2 linked regions of the Homo sapiens genome follow. The main gene of each other region encodes a partner of the protein of the gene in region 2 in a complex. Each region holds a gene or a part of one and is shown on either strand. Other genes may lie near its edges.

Region 1 (2,915 bases), on a different chromosome or scaffold from region 2:
TAAGAATACCATATATCATACATATAACATATAAAATATGTATTATTTTGACTGACGGTATTAAATATGTGTTATCTAATATGGACTGACCGTTTATGTTATCAGTAATGCTTCTAGTCAGCAGTAGCTATTAATAAAAATTTTTGGGAAGTCAAAAGTTATGCAGATTTTCGACTGTGTGGAGCAGGGGGTTGGCACCCCTAACCCCAGTGTTGTTCAAGGGTCAATTGTAGTTTAAAATCTTCCCTTCCTTTTCCCATCTGTACTCACTGAGTCGTCATCCAGGGTGGAGGAGGTCATGTAGGGATCTTCATGGTCCTAGTGTGTAAGCACCTGTGGGACCTCCCTCCTAGGAGTGGCATGGAAGGTGCTGCTGGGATGGACATCAACCAACCCCCAAGGTAGAGGCCAAGTCGCTGTTGGCTAGATACAGGCAATTGGTACCTTTCCGAAGCTCTCTGTGGTGTTAGTTCACTGTAATGGAGGATTCAGAGAGGGGCAGCCAACTCCATGCCCTGTGAGCCTGGGACAGTTGTTTGTCCACTTGCTCAGGCTCTTGACAGAGCAGCTTCTTACTGCATGACAGCTTTTTAGGCACTCTCCCTTCTCACCACTTTACCTTTACTTTCTTCTTATCCTAGTTTTACCTCTCTCTGAAGACAGGTAATGATTAGCTGCCCCTTTTTTCAGTGGACACATTTGACATTGTAGAGGAACATGGAATAAAACAACTGTTCATTTAAGATTTCTATGTCTGTCACAAATGGCTTTTCAAGTTTCACATGTCAAAATTGATAGGTTATCAAGGAAAAGTAAAAAGAAGGCATTCACTTTTTACAGTATACACAATTTTAATAACAAAACTTGCCTGTACACTGCTCTTTATGTTACCCTCCCCCCTCCCAAAACACCCTGCATAATAGTATTTTCTTCCCACCCTCAACCCATCTGCCCACCTCCCACCCAAAAAGAAAAATGGCTCTTGAAGGTGATTGAACACAATGTATTTGGACTGTACTTTGAGTTTCCAGTCTCAGTGTTGATAGGAAGGTTCACCAAACATTCCATATATCAGACTTAAAAAAAAAAAAAAAAACCGCTAAGGACAAAAATGTTAGTTGAAAGAGTTGCAGAGGTTTCCAAATGTTTGCAATAGCAGAATGAAAGCTTAAACAGTAATTTTCTATTTGTTTTTGGCCTTATTCAAGTACTATGAGTTTGCCCCAGGTTAGATAGAGAAATATTTAATTATCTATAGATGGCCTTACTGTCTCTCTCTCTTTTTTTTTTTTTTTCCTGGCTCAAGGGCTTTAGTCAATAAGATATGAAAAGTATGCCCCCAAACAGACTTTTCAGATAGGTCTGTCGCTGTATTCCTGTATTAGGAAAACGATCATGTAAGTCAGCTGTTAAAAATATTCTTTAACAAATTTTATATTGATATCCACACTTCAGAAAAAGAACAGGACATTTATAGCTTTTTCCCCTGATAGCTGTGTGTAGGAAGTGTGCCTTAAGAAAATGAAATGCCTGTTTTGAATTTTAGAATTCAAACCTAGTGCTACATAGGGCTCATTTTTATTGGAAAGATGGAGTCTAGCTCTTGGTGACTAGCATTAGAATAAGCAGATGGATTTTAATAATTAGTGGCGTTGGGAAGTTCAGTCAATTCCATTTATTGAATTGATACAGAAATTAACTTAGGCACATTAAGAAATTACATGTGTTAGTACAGATTTTTGGCTTAAAAAATTAGTATCTTTGCTTTTTGATGCTGGCAGTGGGTATTCTCAGAGTTGTGTGTGGATTTACAAGTTTATCAGCCCACTCTTTTCAGAAAGGTGATTGAAATCCCTGTCATGCTACAGAAATGAATATAAACGATTTCAAACTAGTTCTTGGTTTCTAGATGGGTATGGTATCATAGTCTTCTTTAGCTTTCCTTTTTCCAGAGAGATTAATTATTTTTCTGGTTCTTAATGGTCATTTTCCTCTAATCTTAAAAATAGAAAAAAAATGGAGTGGGTAGTGGTGGTGAAGAGGATAAAACCCCATCAAAAAACAAAAGCTCTGACACTGTGTAACCAAGATCCGCAGCGTTGCTGTGATGCTGTTCCGTTCTAGCCAGTTGGTAAAGAAAGCACAGATGACTAACAGTCTAATCTTCAAACCTGTGCTGATTCTGAAACACAAATGGACAAAAATGAAAGAAAATCTTGCCTTCTACAGGCAATTAAAAAGGGAGGTTTTTGCTTTTAAATGAGAAAGGAAAATACCTTTTTGGTACTACTGTCATTCACTTTTCTTAAAGGACATTACCCAGAAAAATGGAAGGCAAAAAATTTTGATTTTTTTCAACTGGAAAGTATGCCTCGCTAGCCTTGGCTATGCTGTTCCTCTGAATTAGTAAATGGCTGGCTTTTCCAATTTGCTTTTGTCCGTACACTAAGGATTTTGCCAGTTATGGTCCTTTAAGGATTAAGGTGGAGATTCCCAGCCAAAGAAGGGGATTTCTTACCCATCCCACAGTTTAAATCTTAATTTTGTTTGTGGTTTGAAATGATGGAAAATACTCCTCTGCTGTCCTTCAGGGCTGATGGAATCTTGTGTGCTCAGGACACAGTTGTGTTGTGACCAAGCTGTCTGTCACCTGACAAATGGCAATGGTCATCCTGATAAATGGGTTGGTAAATTTTAGCTCGTGGTGCTCTTATTTGTAATAGGGGCTTCTAATTCAGCCTGTCTGTGGGGAAGTAGGGCGCTGTGCTCTATGCTGTTAAATCAGCTTCTGTCTCTGCCCAGACAAGCCCAGGGTCTGGTTTAACAAGAGACAAAATACTCACCACTCGAGATCAACTGAATTGAACTGGGCTGAGACTTTGACAAACTAATCTGCCCACCTTAAAAAAGAGCAC
Region 2 (5,456 bases):
ATGCCTAATCACTGGGCCCTGGGCATCTATGCCCTCTATAGGTTAAGACCCAAAATCCTTGGTCTGATTACTAAGTTTTATATAGCAACCGCCTTTGAAGTGCCTACCTATTTTTAAGGGAAACTAAATTATATATCCTTTAATTTAGACATTAACAAAATGTGGATTGTCATGAATTAATAGCAATAAAGAAATAACAAATATATCTAGACACTGCAGGAACAAAACGAATTAAGCATTCATGTTCAGACTTTTTACTGTTGAAGAAAAAAAGTGCATTTTCATCATAAAATCATTTTCAAGTGCCAGGGTTTTAAAACAACAGTTTCCAACTGTTGAACTAAAACTTACTTACTCTGATAAATCATCTGATTTCTAAAAAGCTAATTTTCTTTGTAAGAAATAAATACAGTTTTATGGAAACAAACACTACGTTCTTTTATATATTTAGATTTGTTTGTTTTTTTCCAAATAAATAACACAATGTGAGAGTCAAAGAAATTAGGCAAATAGTAACGAGTATGTGATAGTGTTGGAATTTAATCACAGGTTTACTTAACTTGGATTCCATTGTCTTTTATAGAGAAAAAGCATATTTATGAAATTAGTATTTTAATATTGTTTGCAACTAATACTGTATGAGTTTATGGTTTCTGGCATATCAAGATGAACAAATATAACAAAAGTACATTTAATGGCTACATCTTTAAGTGTATGAATATAGAGGTCTTTAATGACTAGTTAAATCCAGAAAAAAGAGAGTCAACATTCTTCCTCTATAATATAAGGATGGGTCTTCCCTTCAAATGCAGCCTTCTTTACTTTCCCACTTAAGCACGAAATGGTGCCGCATATAATTTTTAAAATCAATAAATCACAGTTGTATTAAGAAATATTTTATTAACAAAACAGTAAATTCCACTTGCTTAGCATTTCCAATAATGGATAAATTGGCCTTGCAACAGAAAAACAAACAAACAAAAAAAGAAGAAGAAAACCCCTTTGATACCCAATCACACAAAGCACTAGAAGGGTAGGGTTATGTGGCCTTTCTTTGATGTCTTAGGGATTGACCACTTCACACGTTATTGTAGTATTTGTTCTTTTAAAAAAGGCAACACATTACATGGATAAAAAAGAAGCATAATCAATCAGAAAAGTTACAGTCTAGAGATGTAATCAAATTTATGCCAAGTCGTGTGAAATCCTCAATCAACTGCAAACTATGCAGGGAACCCTGATATGTTTGGTATGAAGATACTTGGGATTCAAGTCATTTTCTCTTTCTAACTCTGTTCCTCTCTTTTCTTTTTCCATTGAGGAAAAAATAATTTTTGCTAGAGTTTGTGTAAGCCAATAATATTAGAAATAATTTTGCTGATAATAAACTATATCAATCATTGCATGTAACTTTAAAATTTACGCTGGGGAGAAACATTGAAATCAATCCCAAACAACACATTTCATAGATATACTGCTTAAAATTACCATTATTCAATTTATTTTCTATTATATTTTAGAATCTTTCCAGATGGAAACTGGTTCAAGCTTAATAGATAAAATAGAAAAGCAATCTTAAAAAAAAAAACCCTTCAAGCTGTAAATTAGTAGTTTTACACTTCCCTTCTTATTTAACTGGCTTTCCCTGAGTAAGACTGAATGAGACGGGGGAAAAGAAAAGACTCGTGAATTATTTAATGTGGCAAATTAAAAAAAATGAAAATCTAGAAAAGAAGCAATGGATATTAAATTTTCATTTTATACCTTCTACTTTCTGGGTCATAAAAAGCCACTAAATTTCTTTGTACACAACAATTACTTGGCAACCATAGATAGTGGTGATTTGCTATGAATTATACATATTTCTAAGGTGCTGTATGTCTGAAATCCAGGCCACTTCTTGGCTTTTTTTTCATCAACTAAAGTATCACAAAAGATGTTTTGCATTTTTTGCCTTTGCTGATTAAAGCTAATTGGAAAGATATTCTTCTCTTCTACAAAATTTTTTATCGTTCTTTTAGAAGGTATTCAAGTAATGCAACCAATTTTTCCTGAAACATCAACTTGCAATGTAATAATGCATTTTTTGCACTACCTTCTCATATTAGTAATTTATTGCTGTGAACATCATTGAATAATATGCAAAACAAGTGTATAATCTATACTTTTCCACTACTTAATGTGTTAAACTAAAACTATATTTAATGATATATATGTAAAACCAGAAAAGTTAAAACATAGTCAATAATTAACAGAGAATGATTTTTTAAGTGGGTAGTAATACAGAATCAAAAATTACTGAAAAATACTTTCTTAGTCGAGAGAAAGTGTTTACTTTCCAGAAATGTTCATCATGCACATCAGATTCAGAGATATATATATTATTTTATTAGAAAGAAAGTTTTCAATTGCAGCAGCCAGAGTTAAGGTGTAGATTAACCAATTTTGCTTCCATAACCTGCCCACATAATGGTTCTTATTCATGCAGCAGTATATCAGTGATATTCTATTTGATAAGGAAAGGTTCATTTCTTTAGGGACTAAAATCTTCTTAAGGTTACCTGGGAGCAAGATCTCAATGAAGCAAATCACCCCATTTGTCATCAATACCTTGGCACAACCCTCTTCCTTCCTGCTTTTCAATTTGTCAATAAATATTTGCTACTGTATGCACGTTTGGATCTTCCAGCATATCTGATGGATTGCTGTGGATTCGTGTGTGTGTGTGTGTGTGTGTGTGTGTGTGTGTGTGTGTGTGTGTGAAAATAGTGAATGTATGTGGGAATGTGAGTATTTCAGGGAGAAAAGATTATAAGATACATATGTATATATGTGACTTTCTAATTCACACCTTTCATACAAGTACTAAAACTTAATTGCAACAGAATGAAGGCTGTACATATAAGAAAAGAAGTAGCTGAGTCTTTGTATATACATTCATACATATCTTCCTTAGAATAAACACTACACTGTAATTTCTTTAAAAAATAAAAGTAATTGTGGCAATTTATAATGGTGGCAAAAAAAAAGAAAAACCCAACTGAAATAATTGTTGCTCTGATGTCATAAAACTCCCTATACTTAGCAACACTTATAACATTGAATTTACCAAAAATGGCTGAAGAGCAGAGATATATTTTGCATTTTCTATACAACAGGCTATAAAACGTCACTTATCACAGTCCAGAAAGCACACAGAGATGGATTTTATATAAACATATGTAATAACATAATAAGCGTGCATGAAAATTTCCCAATGATTGCATCTATGCCCTCTTGTTTTTGTTTTGAAATTTTGTGTGAAAACGTGCCTTATATTTCACATTTTTGAAAATAAGGCCTCCATACTTTTTTTTCCTCTCTCACAACCAGAAAGGGGCTTTTTGAATGTGTTCCTACACAAGTCTTCAAAAAAGCCAGCACTTTGTTTCAAATGCAAGTTCCAACCACTGCTCCAGTTGCACCAGGCGGCAAACTCTTAAAGGTTTGCAGGTTGAGTCACTCAAAAGGACAGTCTTCTCTGGCAATTGGACTGACTTCTCAGGAAAGCGCTAGCACTTTGGCTAAATCCAGGATCATAGGTAGCTTCTTTTTTGTGTTATGTTTTGTGTTGGTTTTTGTGTTGTGCCTTGATGCTGTAGTACTCCTTTGCTTTATGAATGCGTGCGGTCATCACTGTCTTTTAGAAATGTTCCAGCAACATAAAGACAAGCAGAGTAAATGAAAACACTGTGGATGTTAGGGAATTTATTGGCCCCTGTTTTTTGTTTTTTGTTTTTCTTTTTTGAGAAACAAGAGCATGAGATACTTGTTTTTATTTTTTAAAAAGTCTTTCCTTCCTGATTGCATTCCCTGTCTTCTTTTGTATGTGCTTCATAAAAAGGAAAGTAAATAAGTTTATATTATGTCTCAGATAAAATGAAGACTATTTCTATACAAGTGTCCATTTAAGATCTTGGGATCAGACATAATACTCTTTATCCTTGTTTTTCTTATTTTTGTTGGAGCTTTTCGCACTGCTGGGTTGTTTCTCCTTTACAACAGCCCCATTGGACTGTGCTGAGTTACTGATGTAGTTTCGACTCTCGTCCACATGGTATGAGCCTTCATCCCGGTTTCTGTACTTGTACATGGCATAGAGGAGGATAAGGATGCACAGGGCGGCAGCGGCTACTATCCCAACGACCATACCCGTGGTGCTGCTGGACTCCCGGATCACTTCTGCTGAGCCTGGATACGGCTCTCTGCCGCCTGCTCGGGTTGGGTTGGCTATAGAAAAGAGGATGAGAACAAACACAAAGTGATCATTGAGTTCACTGAATACCAGAGAGCTATATTAACATTTATTATCTAATTCTAACAGCACCTATGCTTTAGGAAAGGTATGCTATTGATAAATGTAGCCATCCCTTTGCCTCATGGTTACTAAAAACTAGGGACTGTGATTTAAAGTTCTCTGGGAGATTTGTTGCTGTGTCTTCTTTCTTCACAAATCAATTTTGTTCACAGAGTTTGGTAAGCATTGTCCCAAATAAACTCCAATTAGCTCTAAAGGGCCATGTGGGTGACTTAAGTAAAAAAAACCCACAAACCCAGCATAAAGAAAAGCAGAACAGCCCTACCCTATAATACTAGAGGGAATCATAAGAATCAAATAGGTGTTGCTCTAGAACATAGGTCTAACTCTAGACTGAATCAGGACAACTAAATTTAGGATTACTTTAGAAATCATATTCCCCTTGTATTTTAAAGAATACAGTATTGAACAATAAGATAATCCATACATTTTAACTGTCTGCTTTTTAAAGTATAACTTTAGTTACATTTTTATAAATAAAAATAGACTAATTTCCATTTTGTTGGAGATTCATTTGTTTACATAAGTATGTGTGTATTTTATTAATTGATTGGGGAGCTCCCAAGATGAACTTTGGAGGAGAAAGTAATAAAATATTCTTTCTCAGTTTTAAATACAGTCTAGATTGATTTTTTGGTCAAAACTCTGAACTACCTAATAGATTAGATAATAATAGAAGGCTGGCTAGTCTAGTTTTATTCAACTGACAAAACCCTTCTTCAGTCTTCCCAAAGTATAAATAAGGCTCTTTCTTGGATGAGACCAATGGATTTTGGGGTGCCTACGTCTTCTTGAAGGCCTGGTCAGGCACTGAAATTGATGATTGATGGGGAAGAATGGACCTGAGATTTAATTGGTAGATATGAGGAGAAGGGGCAGCTCTTTTCCCCTATATATAATAAACTTTTTTGATATAAAAGGATAGAAACTGTAGCGAGAGAAGAAGATTCTATCCTACTCTGACTGTAGGTCATTTTTTCCTTGTGAATTGTGTTTTCTGTTTTTCCCTGAATCTCTATCCTCTCGCTTGTCTTACATAAAAATATTACTTTTCAGATGTAATGTATTAAAAATGCTACAACTTTCAAAACACTATTCT

Evidence for each region.
Region 1: the proteins of NRXN1 (region 2) and LRRTM2 are in contact, whole or in part, in a crystal structure (PDB 5Z8Y), measured with the Homo sapiens proteins. Residues at the interface, in NP_001317021.1 of Homo sapiens: Leu139, Val158, Thr160, Arg236, Gln237, Leu238, Thr239, Ile240, Asn242; in NP_056379.1 of Homo sapiens: Asp343, His344, Gln346, Gly347, Glu348, Leu351, Asp352, Ala353, Gly356, Phe357.

The regions. Positions count from the first base shown.
Region 1 is NC_000005.10:138,868,095-138,871,009, forward strand, and holds the end of LRRTM2 (leucine-rich repeat transmembrane neuronal protein 2 precursor), read right to left. Parts: 3' UTR 827-2,915; downstream 1-826. UniProt on the Homo sapiens protein: Involved in the development and maintenance of excitatory synapses in the vertebrate nervous system. Regulates surface expression of AMPA receptors and instructs the development of functional glutamate release sites.
Region 2 is NC_000002.12:49,917,983-49,923,438, forward strand, and holds the end of NRXN1 (neurexin-1 isoform alpha4 precursor), read right to left. Parts: intron 4,270-5,456; coding exon 3,962-4,269; 3' UTR 521-3,961; downstream 1-520.